2 separate regions of the Homo sapiens genome follow, and region 1 is linked to region 2. A link means that fine-mapping ties the variant in region 2 to the expression of a gene that starts in the linked region. Tissue or cell type: whole blood. Region 2 holds a variant in brackets; the other region holds the start of a gene. All regions are shown on one strand. Distances are from middle to middle.

Region 1 (2,756 bases), 120 kb after region 2:
ACGATCTCGGCTCACTGCAAGCTCCGCCTCCCGGGTTCACGCCATTCTCCTGCCTCAGCCTCCCGAGCAGCTGGGACTACAGGCGCCCGCCACCACGCCCGGCTAATTTTTTGCATTTTTAGTAGAGACGGGGTTTCACCGTGTTAGCCAGGATGGTCTCGATCTCCTGACCTCGTGATCCGCCCGCCTCGGCCTCCCAAAGTGCTGGGATTACAGGCGTGAGCCACCGCGCCCGGCCAGGGAGGATCGCTTGAGTCCTAGAGTTCAAGACCAGCCTGGGCAATACAGCGAGCCCCCCGCCGCAAAAAAAATTGTTTTAACATTAGCTGGCTGTGATGGGGCAAGCCTGTACTTCCGGCTACTTGGGAGGCTGAGGTGAGAGGATCGCTAGAGCCTGAGAAGTCGAGGCTGCAGTGAGTTGTGATCGCACCACTGCATTCCAGCCTAGGAGAAGGGGCGAGACTGTCTCAAAAAAAAAAGCAGATTATTAGGAAACGGTAGAAATGCCCAGAGGAACTAAAGCGGACCTATGTTTGCTGGCTTTGAATTCACTGCTGGGAACATGTGGAAACTGCTTCAGCAAAGGGGTGTCAGAAAGAATCCCCGGAACAAGTGTCAAAACACCCGTGGTTCTTTGTGCTTGAGTTGGGGGCCCGGCCTAGAGAGCTAGCCCTAAACTGCTGCTACACTAAAAGCTAATAATCGTTCCTGCGCTACCTAAAGGTCAGGGAAGGGATCTCAGACAAACGAGGCGACAACAGAGGGACTGGGGACACAGCCTCAGGATTCCCCAGTTGGGGCGGGGGAGGCAGGAGCGGTCCGGACGAGAAGGTCTGGGGAGGGCGACACTTAGACTGTCGGAGGAAGGCCTGCGGCGGCAGAAGGAAAGACAAGGAAATACACAGTTCTAGAGGCTTCTCTCACTCCAGTCCTCAGGGGTCCGGAAAGCCGGAGGGAGTAGAAGAGGAAGTTCCCAACCCCGTCACAGACGCGCCCGAACGCAGGCCCTCCTTACCCGCCGCTTCCCCTTCCCTCCGGCGCCCGCTCAGGCCCTGCGCGCGCAGTCGCGACCAGCCCCGGCCGGAGAGGGCGGGGGAAACCTGGCGGGGGTGACGAGGCGGGAGTGACTGGGCCGTACAGTTCCCCGAGAACTGGAGGCGAAGCCGGGCGGTGGGAAGGGACTTCGGACGCTTCGCGGGCCCTGGGTTTTCACTGCGCGTGCGCGAGGTTCTTCCGCTCGCGGGAGACTGGGCCGCTGGCGCCTCTCAGTGCCCACTGATGGGGCCCAGGGCTTGGGCTTGCTTCCCCAAGGATCAACAGCTTAGCTGCAAGCCTCTGCTTCTGCCTGCTGGGGCCGGCTGGCTCGCCCTTTCCATTCCGCTTGCACTCTGATTCTTGTGGTGTCCCAAGAAGGCCGCGGATCTCAGTTAAGCAGAGACGAGCCGAACACCTGGCACGGTCCTTCTCTACTGTTCTCTCGAATCGTTTTCTGAGTGCATGACTGAGCCTGGCACTGAAGGGATACTTATTTTGGGGAAGGAAGAACTCAAAAGTCCAGTTTTTTTCACTGTTGACCCTCATGTGTCACATTAGTGGCTTTCAAACTGTTTTGATCCCAGCCTACGGTGAACAAAAATATTTTACATCAAACTCAATACCACATACTTGTGAGTATATATATAGAAGTATATATCTAACATAAAATCTCATTTCTTTATTTTTATTTTTATTTTTTATTTTTTGAGACGGAATTTCGCTCTTGTTGCCCAGGCTAGAATGAATGCAATGGCCGGATCTCGGCTCACCGCAACCTCCGCCTCCTGGGTTCAAGCGATTCTCCTGCCTCAGCCTCTCAAGTAGCTGGGATTGCAGGCATGCGCCACCATGCCCGGCTAATTTTGTATTTTTAGTACAGACTGAGTTTCTCCATGTTGGTCAGGCTGGTCTCAAACTCCCCACCTCAGGTGATCCGCCCGACTCGGCCTCCCAAAGTGTATTTCTTTCTCTTTTTATGAGACAGGGCCTGGCTTTGTCGCCCAGGCTGGAGTGCAGTGGTGCCATCTCGGCTCACTGCAGCCTCGACTTCCTGGGCTCTGGTAGTCCTCCCACCTCAGCCTCCTGAGTAGCTGGGACTACAGGCCTGTGCCACCACCGCCAGGCTAATTTTTTGTATTTTTAGTAGAGACAAGATTTCGCCATGTTGACCAGGCTGGTCTCCAACTCCTGGGCTCGAGTGATCCGCCCGCCTCGGCCTCCCAAAGTGCTGGGAGGTGTGAGCCACTGTGCCTGGCCTGAAACAAAATCTTCACAAAACTATGTTTACACTTACGACCCGCAGTGCACTAAATTTTTATTTCTTCTTTTCTACTTCATTACCAAAAACTGCTAACAGGGACCTATTGTCAGCAAACATTGTCAAAGACTTGGAAATGAGGAAAAGAGAATTCTGTGTGCCCTTTCAGTGTAAGGCTGGACGGATTTGCATCCATAGGGAGCTCTGACTTTCTATTGACTAAAGTATTTCACCAGAAAACTGGTAGTACTTAAAATAATTCTTGCCCGTCTGTAGAAAAGATACACCAAAACATTGTTTTATTGACCTGTAGCATATTAAGCCATTTTTACCCTTCTCAGCAAATTCATTTAAACATTCCTGATTCTTAGCAAATTCATGCTACATTCCTAAATATCTTACTGGCTCCCTTATAAGTTAATGAGATAAATAAAATATTTGATACTTTTTTTTTATATTTGTA
Region 2 (2,756 bases):
TAAGTCCTTATTTCTAACAGAGTTCTAAGTGGCAAGGTCTCACATCAGCTTGTGCCATGCCCCTTTTAAGGACTTGGCCAATTGTGCTGTAAATACAGGCCACCAGAAGTTCAAGGATTTTTATAGAAACCCCATTTGTCTTGTTCACCCTAAGATCTAGCAGTGTTTTATTCAGAGAAAGAATCCAAGCAACTGCTGGATAAACTGACACAAGCTATTTAGCTTCTTAGCTCTGGCCAGAGGACCAGGAAACTACAGTGCAGATCAGGAAGCAGAGGAAGGTGAACCTGCTTCCTTAAAGACCAAGAGCTCAGACCATAGCTCTGGAACACAGCCTTGTGGTTCTGATAAGGAGTTAGAGCTGTTAGGATGAAAGAGCATACTATTTTTTGGAATCTGCTAATCACTGACACTTGGTTTTTGTATATAACACTGGGGATCCTTATTTCCCAGGCAGATTTAGGGGCCCCACTACATTTCTACTAAGGTAATCCCCCCCCCCCCCACCCGATCTTTCTCTCACATTAAACTTGCTCCCTCAGGGCAAGAACTGTCTTGACTCCTTATTCTCCTGGTTACTAACTGGTCTCTAGGAAGAAGGTTTACAACATACCTGCTCTGTCTTCATGTGGAACTCTTTGAGCTCATCCTCTGTGAGGGGAAGGCAATTCTCATCATTTTCAGGATATTCCTGCCAACCCATAGCTTTCAATAACCTGGTGGACGCAGAAGGACAGGTAAAGAGAATACAACATCACTAAGCCTAAGTGAACAGCCCACCACTTTTCACAGAAAAGTTTTCTGCCCAGGGGCAATGGATGTTAAAGAAGGAATTTTGTTTTCCTCCCTGTGGGACAAGCTTTAATTGTGGCTACCTGGGTGCTGTAAATAAATGGAGGCTCTTCACAGTTGAGAGAGGAAGAGCTAAAGAAGAGACAGTAGAAGCAAAACCAAGACAGTGTAAGGAAGAAAGAGAGCACTTGCAGTCTGGCTTTTTTTTTTTTTTGGGATGGAGTCTCACTCTGTCACCCAGGCTGAAGTGCAGTGGTACAATCTCAGCTCACTGCAACCTCCGCCTCCCGGGTTCAAGCCATTCTCCCGTCCCAGCCTCCCTAGTAGCTGGAATTACAGGCGCACACTACCATGCCCAGCTACTTTTTGTATTTTTGGTAGAGACAGGGTTTCGCCATGTTGGCCAAGCTGGTCTCAAACTCTTGACCTTGACTGATCCACCCACCTCAGCCTCCCAAAGTGCTGGGATTACAGGCATGAGCCACTGCGCCCGGCCTGAAGTTAAAAGTATTAAAGTATTGGAGAGTAGATTGTGGAAAAGATGGCTGA[G/A]TTTGAGAGAGAATGCTTGATGAGCAACAGGCCAACCTGGGGCATACACAGAGAACAAGTTATGACTGGGCCACTTCTCTCTGCATGTGGGACCTATCTATCTGAGATATCTTCTCCAGTATGTTCAAGGTCCTTAAAGGTCAGACACTGCATGCCCTGTGATGTCCTCCTCACTTACCTGTGCTCTGCTTCTAGAGAGTGTGAGAGAACCTCCCCTTCTTCCACTACAGGGAGGGCAAGACCATTTTGATGACAGCCTTCCTCCCCATTTTCCTTTGGTTCAGGTGTGCTGTTGTCCTCCAACTGCAATAAGGAAAAGGAAGGACACAGTTGGTTTAAGGTTCCTTTGTAGTAATATAAGCAACCTATGAAATCAAGGACTCACGACCCAGGAAGTGTTTTCCAAAAGACAGCCTCAGCCCACAGATTTTTTTCCCCATTTACAAATGAGGACCTGCTGCATCAACAAAACTGATTCTAAAGTTTTAATGAAAAGGCAAAAGATCCAGAACAGCCAACACAATACTGAAGAATAAAACCAGAGTACTGATATTACCTGACATCAAGACTTACCACAAAAGCTGGAGTAATTAAAACAGTATGGTAACAGTGCTCATAAGAGGTGTGGGGGGAAAAAGTGTGGTACTGGCAGAAGATGACACAAATAGTCCAATGGGACAGAACAGAGAGCCCACAAATAGACAACTGATCTTTGACAAAGGAAATACAATGGAGAAAAGATAGTCTTTTCAACAAATGGTGAGGGAACAATTGGACAGCCACACTAAAAAAAAAAAAATCAATCTAAACAAAGACCTTACAGCCGTCACAAAAATAAAGTCAAAATGGGTCACAGACCTAAATGTAAAACACAAAACTATAAAACTCCTATAAGGATAACATAAAAGAAAACTTAGATTACCTTGGGTATGACATTTATTTATTTATTTATTTGTTTATTTACTTACTTATTTTTGGAGATCAAGTCTCACTCTGTTGCTCAGGCTGGAGTGCAGTGGCGCGATCTCGGCTCACTGCAACCCCCGCCTCCCATGTTCAAGTGATTCTCATGCCTCAGCCTCCCATGTAGCTGTGACTATGGGTGCATGCTACCATGCCCGGCTAATTTTTCTGTTTTTAGTAGGAACGGGGTTTCGCCAGGTTGGCCAGGCTGGTCTCAAACTCCTGACCTCAGGTGATCCGCCCACCTCAGCCAACCAAAGTGTTGGGATTATAGGTTTGAGCCACCGTGACTGGCCTACAATTAATTAGGCTGGATTTCATTAAAATAAAAAAAATTTCTGCTTTGCAAAACACTCTGTCAAGAGAATTAAAAGACAGTGTAGTTGCTCACACCTGTAATCCTAGCACTTTCGGAGGCCAAAGGTGGGAGGACTGCTTGAGTCTAGGAGTTT

The links. PIP is the estimated chance that this variant, and not a neighbour inherited with it, causes the effect.
Region 1: it holds the start of IPP, and the variant in region 2 is fine-mapped to the expression of IPP in whole blood (INTERVAL, PIP 0.98).

Annotation. Positions count from the first base shown.
Region 1 is chr1:45,749,582-45,752,337 of GRCh38, forward strand. IPP (intracisternal A particle-promoted polypeptide) reads right to left here and starts at 1,072. Exons shown (of 9, transcript NM_005897.3): 1 at 1,016-1,072. LOC105378693 (a long non-coding RNA gene) reads left to right here and starts at 1,368. Exons shown (of 3, transcript XR_947290.2): 1 at 1,368-1,667. RefSeq lists a silencer at 913-1,182.
Region 2 is chr1:45,628,963-45,631,718 of GRCh38, forward strand. GPBP1L1 (GC-rich promoter binding protein 1 like 1) reads right to left here. Exons shown (of 13, transcript NM_021639.5): 11 at 1,520-1,644; 12 at 614-716. Among named protein-coding and RNA genes, the nearest start is that of CCDC17, 6.3 kb to the left of the region's middle. The variant G/A (reference allele first, on the strand shown) is at 1,342.